Linked DNA regions of Homo sapiens: region 2 is linked to region 1. Evidence: fine-mapped expression QTL. Tissue or cell type: lung. Region 1 holds a variant in brackets; the other region holds the start of a gene. All regions are shown on one strand. Distances are from middle to middle.

What was found. PIP is the estimated chance that this variant, and not a neighbour inherited with it, causes the effect.
Region 2: ENTPD5 starts here. The variant in region 1 is fine-mapped to the expression of ENTPD5 in lung (TOPMed, PIP 0.92).

The regions. Positions count from the first base shown.
Region 1 is chr14:73,954,261-73,959,260 of GRCh38, reverse strand. COQ6 (coenzyme Q6, monooxygenase) reads right to left here. Exons shown (of 12, transcript NM_182476.3): 3 at 3,752-3,810; 4 at 3,333-3,456; 5 at 984-1,114; 6 at 183-290; 7 at 37-99. It also overlaps a transcript of ENTPD5 not described here. Among named protein-coding and RNA genes, the nearest start is that of COQ6, 6.5 kb to the right of the region's middle. The variant T/A (reference allele first, on the strand shown) is at 2,160.
Region 2 is chr14:74,016,494-74,021,687 of GRCh38, reverse strand. ENTPD5 (ectonucleoside triphosphate diphosphohydrolase 5 (inactive)) reads left to right here and starts at 2,400. Exons shown (of 16, transcript NM_001249.5): 1 at 2,400-2,438. BBOF1 (basal body orientation factor 1) reads right to left here and starts at 2,339. Exons shown (of 12, transcript NM_025057.3): 1 at 2,154-2,339. The coding sequence starts at 2,209. RefSeq lists silencers at 2,223-2,472, 2,503-2,572, 2,583-2,722, 2,763-2,832, 2,748-3,042.

The sequences.
Region 1 (5,000 bases):
ATGCATGTGGGCGGACTGGTCAGAAGGACCTCTTACCGGGAGCAGAGCAATAGGCCCAGAGGGAAGAAATCTCTGCCAGGCTACGTTGTTTTCTGTGGCCTGCAACAGAGAGGAGAAAAGTTTCTCTGTGAAGTACCTAGTGCCTATGAATAAAGTCCCCAGATGGCAGCTCAGGATCTTACCTCTGATAAATGCAGAGTAGCCACAACAGCAGACTGGTCATAGTTCCAGCTCACATTCTGGATTCCAACAGCCTGCCGTACTCCGGAGTTGTGACCATCTGCACCTATCTGCATGGACACATGAGCCTGCTAAGTCTTCCAGCCTCTTCATAAACTGCTTCAGAAGTTTTTCTCTGCTCCCTAAAGTTTCCTCCAGCTCTGATTGTTGTGTGGCAGGATAATTCCATCAGGCCTGCTTCACTCACAGCCCCTAGAGGTGGAGCCCCTGCACTGTCACATCAGCCTCAGCCAACAGAGCCAAAGCTGGACATGACTGAACAGGTGCCAGCCATGAGTTAAACTCAGCCAGGCCCTCCTGATATTTGAACTAGAGAGCAATAAGGAAAGTTTCAGTATGGGGCACACACTGGAGCTGAATAGTTCTGATGTAGGGTTAGGAATGGCTACCATGCAAAAAGGGAAGCTTGTGAGCAGAAAGGAGAAAAATGAGAGGCAAGAGATCAATGACCACAGACTCCTCAGAGGGAAAGAACAGCCTCCATTCCCAACACTCTGGTGCCTGTCCTGTGAGGCCCAGCTATCTGTTATTTCACAACCTAAGACGGCCCATGAGATTGCTCCCTGTACAGGATTTACGATGAGACCATCTCCACTTGAGCTGGCCTGAATAGGTACTGGTCCTCATAACCAAAAGTTTTGCCTAAAATTAAACTATAGCTTAAATCGAAAACCAGAGTCCCTAGAATCTAGGATAAGATGTAGATATACAAGACCCCTAGCAAAATAAGAATCTTCAACTACCAACAATTTGGTCTGGAAGGTGCTGCCATCACCTAGGGTAATATGAACCCAAGGGCTGGAGTCGGCCATAGGAAATGGACAAGGCCAGGTATAGCGAATGGCTTTGCTCCTGTAGAGAACCGTCACTCGGTCTGGGGAGGTCAAAAGAGAGGAAAAAAAATTAGAAAGGTGGGCCACATAGGCTGAGGAAAAAGCCATAACTAAACCTAAAGCAAGGTCCCAGGACAGCAGTGTCTTGTCATTTAAGATTAAAAAAATCAGTAATTAATGCTGTGGTCTGAGCTAATAAATGACAGAAGCCACAGAGATAACTCAATGTCAAAAAAAGACATTGAAGTTCTCAGTGAACTCTGTCAGAGGCACTCTTTCTTACTGTCCACATGCTTCTGCGCCTCCATTTTCACTCTACGCTTAAATGAGCCCGTGTTTGCTTTTACAGTAGACAGGCTGGGAATACCATAGGCTGAAACAAATCCTAGACTACAAAAGATTTTCTTCCAGCTGGAAATCATTTTATTTTTCTGGTCATAAAAACAATACGCTCTATGGCCAGGCACGGGTGGCTCATGCTCGTAATCCTAGAACTTAGGGAGGCTGAGGCAGGAGGATCACTTGAGCCCAGGAGTTCAAGACCAGCCTGAGCAACATGGTAAAACCCCATCTTTACAAAAAATTAACCAGGCGTGATGGTGCGCACCTGTCGTCCCAGTTAGTCAGGAGGCTGAGGTGAGAGGATTGTTAAGCCACTGCACCCCAGCCAAGGAGGACAAAGCAAGACCTTGTCTCAAAACAAAACAAAACACTATCTCCAAAAACATCAGCCTGTATACATCATTTACAGCTTTTTGTATGTCAGTCAGTCATACTGTCAACAAAGCGATTTAAATAATAGAGGGCCAGCACAGTGGCTTACGCCTGTAATCCCAGCACTTTGGGAGGCCGAGGTGGGTGGATCACGAGGTCAGGAGATTGAGACCACGGTGAAACCCCATCTCTACTAAAAATACAAATAATTAGCTGGGCACGGTGGCAGGCGCCTATAGTCCCAGCTACTCCAGAGGCTGAGGCAGGAGAATGGTGTGAACCTGGGAGGCCGAGCTTGCAGTGAGCCGAGACTGTGCCACTGCACTCCAGCCTGGGCGACAGAGCGAGACTCCATCTCCAAAAAAAAAAAAA[T/A]AATAATAATAATAATAAGCTCGCTGTAGAAGTCTGGACAACAAAGAAAGGTTCAAGTGGAGAAAAATCACCCTTAAACTACTCAGAGACAACTGCAATTACAGCTTTGGTGTATGACTTTCCAGACAATTTCCTATGCATGTACATGCACACACAAGTGTGATCATATGACCCAATATATTATGGAACAAATTTATAAGTTATTAAATTTTAGATTCAAATTATCTTTAAAAGCTACATCATGGTTCACTGCATGAACTACTATCCAATATCAAAAAGCATTTAAGTTACTTCCAATTTTTCTCTCTCTAGAACATTAAGATATTTGCAAGCCGCATAACTGATAAATTTATATTTAAAATATATAAAGAACTCCTATAACTCAAAAACAAATAATCCAATTTAAAAACAGGCAAAATATTTTGAACAGACATTTCTCCAAAGTGGATACACAAATGGCCAGTAAGGACATGAAAAGATACTCAGCATCATTAGTTATTAAGGAAATGCAACCACTACTACAATGAGATACAACTTCACTCTCAACAGGATGGCTACAGTTTTTTTTTACAGAAGGAAAATAAGCGTTGGTGAGGATGTGGAGAAACTGGAACCCTTATAGACTGGTGGGAAAGTGAAATTGTATAGCCTCTTCAGAAAAGTTTGGCAGCTTCTGAAAATATTAAACATAGAATTATTATATGACCCAGCAATTCCACTTCTAAGTATCCAGCACCGTGAAATAATCATCAGAGGAATTTTTTTTTTTTTTTTGAGACGGAGTCTTGCTCTGTCGCCCAGGCTGGAGTGCAGTGGCGTGATCTCGGCTCACTGCAAGCTCCACCTCCTGGGTTCACGCCATTCTCCTGCCTCAGCCTCCCAAGTAGCTGGGTCTATAGGCGCCCGCCACCATGCCTGGCTAATTGTTTCTTTGTATTTTTAGTAGAGACAGGGTTTCACCATGTTAGCCAGGATGGTCTCCATCTCCTGACCTCGTGATCCGCCCGCCTTAGCCTCCAAAAGTGCTGGGATTACAGGCGTGAGCCACCGCACCCGGCCATCAGAGGATTTCTTTATGGTGGACACTGAATATTGTAAAAGAGATCCTTTCTTCCAGTAAGTCCTAAGCAGTTCACTTCCCAATGAATGCAAGGTGGAAGATGGGGGCCTCACCAGACACAGCCTCCAACTGCTTAGTGAGAGCATGCATGATGACATCATTCTCCACGATATAGCCCATGTCATCTAAATTATCCTTATCAAACATTATCAGGGCCTCTGAGCAGGCGTCCCACACCTGGAAACACAAAAGGAAAGTCTGCATTAAAACCAAGAGGGAAACATCACTCCAATCAGAAACAATATTGCTTTCCCAAGTGACAGAGCAGAAAATCACAATTTGTCAGCCTCTCTGGTAGGAAAATATAAAATGAGAAGAAAATTCTCCTGGGAATGCTTCTCCCCACTTCCTCGGACTGAATGTGAACCTTGTCTGATTCCTCCTACATTCACAGAACACTTGGAGAAAGTGGACTCCGATATCTTAAGACAGACCAAGACATCTTGACAAAATTGAAAAGATAAAGGGGCACCTGCATTCGCCGAAAGGCTCTGTATCTCATGTTGCAGATATGGTCCCAGGCACCAAAACCTACAAAAGAAAGGATCTATAGACCAGAGTGACTTCACAAGGACCTGGGCTCCCCCTTGTCCCTCCATCCTGTTACGTAAGAGGTTGTTTTCAGTGTTCTTCAATAATACTCTCCACTTCTATCTTGTTTGATGTTAGTACCTAAGCTACTCTGTTCCCCAGTTCCAGGTTGTATAGCATGAAAAAAGACCCAGCTTCTGCCGGGCGCGGTGGCTCATGCCTGTAATCCCAGCACTTTGGGAGACTGAGGCGGGCGGATCACGAGATCAGGAGATAGAGACCATCCTGGCTAACACCGTGAAACCTCATCTTCACTAAAAAATACAAAAAATCAGCTGGGCGTGGTGGCGGGCGCCTGTAGTCCCAGCTACTTGGAGAGGCTGAGGCAGGAGAATGGCCTGAACCCGGGAGGCGGAGCTTGCAGTGAGCCGAGATCGTGCCACTGCACTCCAGCCTGGGCAACAGAGCGAGACTCCGTCTCAAAAAAAAAAAAAAATAAAATAAAAAAAAAAAAGACTCAGCTTCCATGATCAAAAGGTCAAATCACATAAAGTAGGGGAAATTAAAAACGAAAACCAAATCCATGTATTTTTTTTTTTTTTTTTTTGAGACGGAATCTCGCTCTGTAGCCCAGGCTGGAGTGCAGTGGCGGGATCTCGGCTCACTGCAAGCTCCGCCTCCCGGGTTCACCCTATTCTCCTGTCTCAGCCTCCCCAGCAGCTGGGACTACAGGCATCCGCCGCCATGCCCGGCTCATTTTTTTGTATTTTTAGTAGAGACAGGGTTTCACCGTGTTAGCCAGGATGATCTCGATCGCCTGACCCTGTGATCCGCCTGCCTCAGCCTCCCAAAGTGCTGAGATTACAGGCGTGAGCCACCGCACCCGGCCCCAAATCCATATTGTTCTTTTTCTTCATCATCCTGCTGAAGTTATAAACCTCGTAAAGACAATTTTTAAAAAATTATTTTTACAAAGGATTTCTAGTAACTTGAAACCATTTGTTTTTTCTTTTTCAAGATACAAGGTCTTGGTATGTTGCCCAGGCTAGACTTAAACTCCTGGGCTCAAGCAATCCTCCCATCTCAGCCTTCCAAGTGGCCAGGACTATAGGTACACATGACTGTGCCTGGCCTATGTTCTATTTTTTAGCTCTTCATAGCACTGAACAGATTTATTCATTGAGGAAATA
Region 2 (5,194 bases), 62 kb before region 1:
TTGGGCTAGGTCTTGGACAAAAAGTCAAGTCACTAGGGCAAATACGTTAAATAGTTTATCAGCTGGTGCCACAGTTCACCGGACTTTTTTTTTTTTTTTGAAACAAGATCTTGCTCTGTCATCCAGGCTGTAGTGCAGTAGCACCATCACAGCTCACTGCAGCCTCAACCTCCCAGGCCCAAACGATCCTCCACCTCAGCCTCCTAAGTAACTGTGACTACAGGCATGAGTTAGCATGCCCAACTAATTTTTAATAAAAATTTTTGTAGAGACAGGGTCTTCCTATGTTGTTCAGGCTGGTCTTGAACTCCTGGGCTCAAGTGATCTTCCCCTGCTCAGCCTCCCAAAGTGCTGGGCATGAGCCACGATGCCCCACCCACCGGGCTTTAAGGATGCCTGAGAAACCATAATCATTTATATAGAGGTGGAGAGGAAAAAGGATGGATTCAAAGATTAAAGTGGTAAAGGAAGAGATTTTTCTAAATATTTATTGTATAAGCATTAACAAAACACTCCCCCTTATATATGGTAGGTACCATGATATATAAATATGTACATATTTAAGAATATTTCACCTGTATTTGAATTCTAAATATTTTCACACATATGTACATGTGGACCTTTCTATACTGCCACCCTCCACATCCACTTTCCTACCTCTGGTTCTCAGTCCTCTTCCACAGAGGTAATGGGTTTGCAGTGGAGAGAACCAAAGTCCCACTTTCACCTTTTGTTCTCTTCAAATTAAGGCCAGCTCCATTCCCAACCCCTCAGCCTGTTATAGCTGTTGATGTCCCTTTCTGGCATGATTTAGGCACTAGTGATACACTGTCTCACTACGACCATCCAGGTATCAGGTCTGAGTGGCTCGAAGTACTTGATGCGACAGGGCATGGTGGCTCACGGCTGTCATCCCAGCACTTTGGGAGGCCGAGGCGGGTGGATCACCTGAAGTCAGGAGTTCGAGACCAGCCTGGCCAACATGGTGAAACCCTGTCTCCACTAAAAATAAAAAAATTAGCTGGGCGTGGTGACGGGTGCCTGTAATCACAGCTACTCGGGAGGCTGAGGCAGGAGAATTGGTTGAACCCAGAAGGCAGAGGTTGCAGTGAGCTGAGATCGTGCCATTGCACTCCGGCTTGGGCAACAAGAGCAAAACTTGGTGTCAAGAAAAAAAAAAAAGTACTTGATGCAAGAAATTAGACACTCTAATAGGACCACTGATACTCACTGTAGAAACAAAGCCAGGTTTCTCAAACAATGGGTCATGGAAAATCCAAGGAATAAGGTCTCTTACCCTTAGTGTTCCTCATTGTTCAAATGTGTACTGTAGAAGCATGGTCAAAATCTGAAAACATATGTTAGTGAGTTCTAGGAATGTGATAAGCCCTTGGCACTTTAAGGGCTAGACTAACTGTGCAGTTATGTAAAAACAAAAAAAAAATACCATAAAAGAATACTTACATTAACAAATGGGAAGAAAAAAGCCACATATAAGTATGTACATTGGGCTATCGTTTTATTAAAAAAGAATACTCCAAAATATAGTAGTGTTTATTTTTGGATAATGAGACTACAGGTGATTTTTGTTTTTTCTTTTGGTACTTCCCATGTTTCCCAAACTTTCTGTATTGAGCATGAATTACTCTCTTAAGTTACTTTACAAACATCTCAAGTTTGGTGCCAACTCTGTGTTCCCATATATGGTGTTGTTGCTGGACACCACGTATGACTCCAACGTGTCCAGAAACCACCGGGGTCCCCCAATAGGGCTAGTAGCAATCTAGCAGCAACTCCAGGCCTGTAAGGGGTTAGTGCTAGAACATTACCCACCTCAGTGGCTCTGATCAGTTTGGGAAAACCTCAATAATTATCCAACTTGGTAAAATACTTTAGGTGTCCCCTTTGAACCAAAAGAGATCTCTGAAAAGGCCCAAGGAACTACTTTATACATCCTCTACACGTTTAAGATAATCTGAACACATAGTAGAGATCTGCCAGACTATGGACATGGGAGCTGTAATCCTCACAAGCCGGGAGAGCCGGGGAGAGGGTCCGAGTGGGCCGGCGCGGGGGGCGCCAGGTTGCCAGCCCCAGACCCGAAATCCCAGGCAGGCCCAGGGAGAGGGGACTCTCGGGTGGCTTCTCCTTACTTCGTGTCTTTGCCTTTGCTCTTGCCTTTCTTTTTGTCCTTTCCCTTCGACGGCATCTTGGCTTCCCCAGGGGCTCCGCTGTCGTAGTTGCCCAGCCGCGGCCGCCCTGGCCAGCTCTGTCTCCAAGGGAACCGGGACGCCGAGCTGGCAATGCCCCACCCGCGCCGCTGACGGCGCGCGGAGAGCGCACGCGCCCGTGACGTAGCCCAGGCGCCGCGGCGCGCGGGGTGGGGCGGAGGTCGCGCCGAGGGCGGCGGGCTGCCGCGCAAGGGTGGCGCGCGCGCGGTGAGTGTGCGAGTGTCGGCGGCGCCGGATCCTCTACGTGGGGCCCGGGCTCTGCGGGCGGGAGGCGGGAGCTGGCAGCCCCAGGCGGTAGCGCTTCGTCCTGCGGCCTGGGTGTGTCAGGAGTCGCTGCGGTCGGGGCGCCCTTGCCTCAGGAGACTTAGATCCCCGCTGATCCGCCCGTCCCGCCGCAGTGGTCTGAGCCGCAGCCCTTTCCCGTGCCGCCCGCGGGTCCCGTTCCTCCCGTGTCTCCATGCCGCAGCCAGCGTGGCCGCGGCTACCTTGCCCTCGCCCCCGCTCCGCTTCTGCCGCTCCCGGCACTGCCTTACTCCTTTGGGTTGCATCTCTTTCCTGGCTTTTCACCCTTGCTGATTCTGTAAGGGATAGTGCAGCCAGCGGACGTCCCAGGCCAAATGTTTTTTGATAGGCAGTCGAGGACTTTCCCGAGGGCGGTGGTTGAGGGCGAGGCTGCCAGCCTCCGAAGAGCAGCGGCACGCCAGGGAGCCGGGCGGGGAGGGGAGTGCTGCCACCGAGGTCGGGAGCAGGGTCCTCGGCCTCACTAGGTCCTGTGTGGCCGATACTTCCTGCCCACGACCGCCCCCCGGATTTCCATTTGCTAATACCGGTCCGCAGCCTTCTTTCCTGAAAGTTGCATAAAGTTGGAAGCTCTTCAACTTGCCTCCCCGACTCCTGAAATCCCGAATACACCTCTGAAAAGGAGTGTACTCACAAGTATTCTCATTTTTCAATGAGAGTCAGTCAGTGAGTCATTAAGGAAGGTACGGTATTCTGAGTGCCAAGCCAATAGTTAGGAGACTTGTGGTTGAAGCTCTGCTCTGTTATACTCCATTTCAAATTAAAAAGTTTATTTTAAATGTGGTTGTAGATCCTTCGTCACCATTTCTCTAGGGAGGACTTAATCCGTACACTCCTTCCCGATGTCTTTGACCTCTAATTACTCCCCTCCGCCTTGTTTCCCACTTGCATAGTTTCTGTTTCTGAATTTCTGTTTCTTCTGAGGGAACATGCCGATTTGGTAATGATAAGCCTTGTAAACTTTTTTTTTTTTTTTTCTGAGAGAGAGTCTTCTGTCACCCAGGCTGGAGTGCAGTGGGGCATCTCGGCTCCCTGCAACCTCCACCTCCTTGGTTCAAGCGATTCTCCTGCCTCAGCCTCCCCAGTAAGTGGGACTACAGGTGCATGCCACCACACCCGGCTAATTTTTGTATTTTTGGTAGAGATGGAGTTTCACCATGCTGGCCAGGCTGGTCTCGAACTCCTGGCCTCAGGTGATCCACCTGCCTCGGCCTCCCAAAGTGTTGAGATTACAGGCGTGGGCCACCGCCCCGGCTGTAAACCTTTTTTTTGAGACAAGAGTTTTGCTCTTGTTGCCTAGGCTGGAGTGCAATGGCGCAATCTCGGCTCACCACAACCTCTGCCTCCCGGGTTCAAGCAATTCTCCTGCCTCAGCCTCCCCAGTAACAGACTATAGGTGCGTGCCACCATGCCAGGCTAATTTTTGTATTTTTGGTAGAGACAGAGTTTCACCATGCTAGCCAGGCTGGTCTTGAACTCCTGGCCTCAGGTGATCCACCCGCCTTGGTCTCCCAAAGTGTTGAGATTTACAGGCATGAGCCACCGCCCCCGGCTGTAAAATTTTTTTTTTTTTTTTTTGAGACAGAGTTTTGCTCTTGTTGCCCAGGCTGGAGTGCAATGGCACGATCTCGGCTCACCGCAACCTCCACCTCCCAGTTCAAGCGATTCTCCTGCCTCAGCCTCCCGAGTAGCTGGGATTACAGGCACACACCACCATCCCTGGCTAATTTTGTATTTTTAGTAGAGACAGGGTTTCTCCATGTTGGTCAGGCTGGCGTAAACCTTATTATACATACCATCTGCCAGCATGATCATGGCTTTTTCTTTTCTTTTTTTTTGAGATGGAGTTTCGCTCTTGTTTCCCAGGCTGGAGTGCAATAGCACGATCTCGGCCCACCGCAGCCTCCACCTCCCAGGTTCAAGCAATTCTCCTGCCTCAGCCTCCCGAGTAGCTGGGAATCCAGGCATGCGCCACCATGCCCGGCTACTTTTGTAATTTTAGTAGACACGGGGTTTCTCCATTTTGGTCAGGCTAGTCTCGAACTTCCAACCTCAGGTGATCCGCCCGCCTCGGCCTACCAAAGTACTGGGATTACAGGCGTGAGCCACCACGCCTGGCCGATCATAGCTTTTTCTGAGTGTATTTCTGGTATACTTTCACACTCCCGTGAGTCCATAGGCGGAATCGCCATATATTGAAGAGTTTATCTCTGATGTAAAATCTATAAAGTTACCATTAATTTTGTATGTGTAAGGTTCTGAAAAAGCACACTGTTGATAAGCTGCAGAAAAGAGAGTAGGGCATCTTCTGTCACAGGCTGTATATTTGGAATTTATTCTAGAAATTGGTAACTTTATAATATGAAAGTCAGTCCAAGACTCCTCATTTGAACATAGGCTTACAGATTAATGTATGAACATAAAAATTTGACTATAACAAGATTATTAATGTATGCGTAGTACCTTAGTTATAGTACTTTATAGTTTCTTTTATTGGTTTTTGGGTTTTTTGATGGTTTTTTTGAGATAGGGTCTTACTCTTAACCATGCTGGAGTACAGTGGCAGGATCATGGCTCATTACAGCTTCGACCTCCTGGACTTAAGTGATCCTCCCACCTCAGCCTCTGGCATAGCTGGGACTGTAGGCATGCACCACCATGCC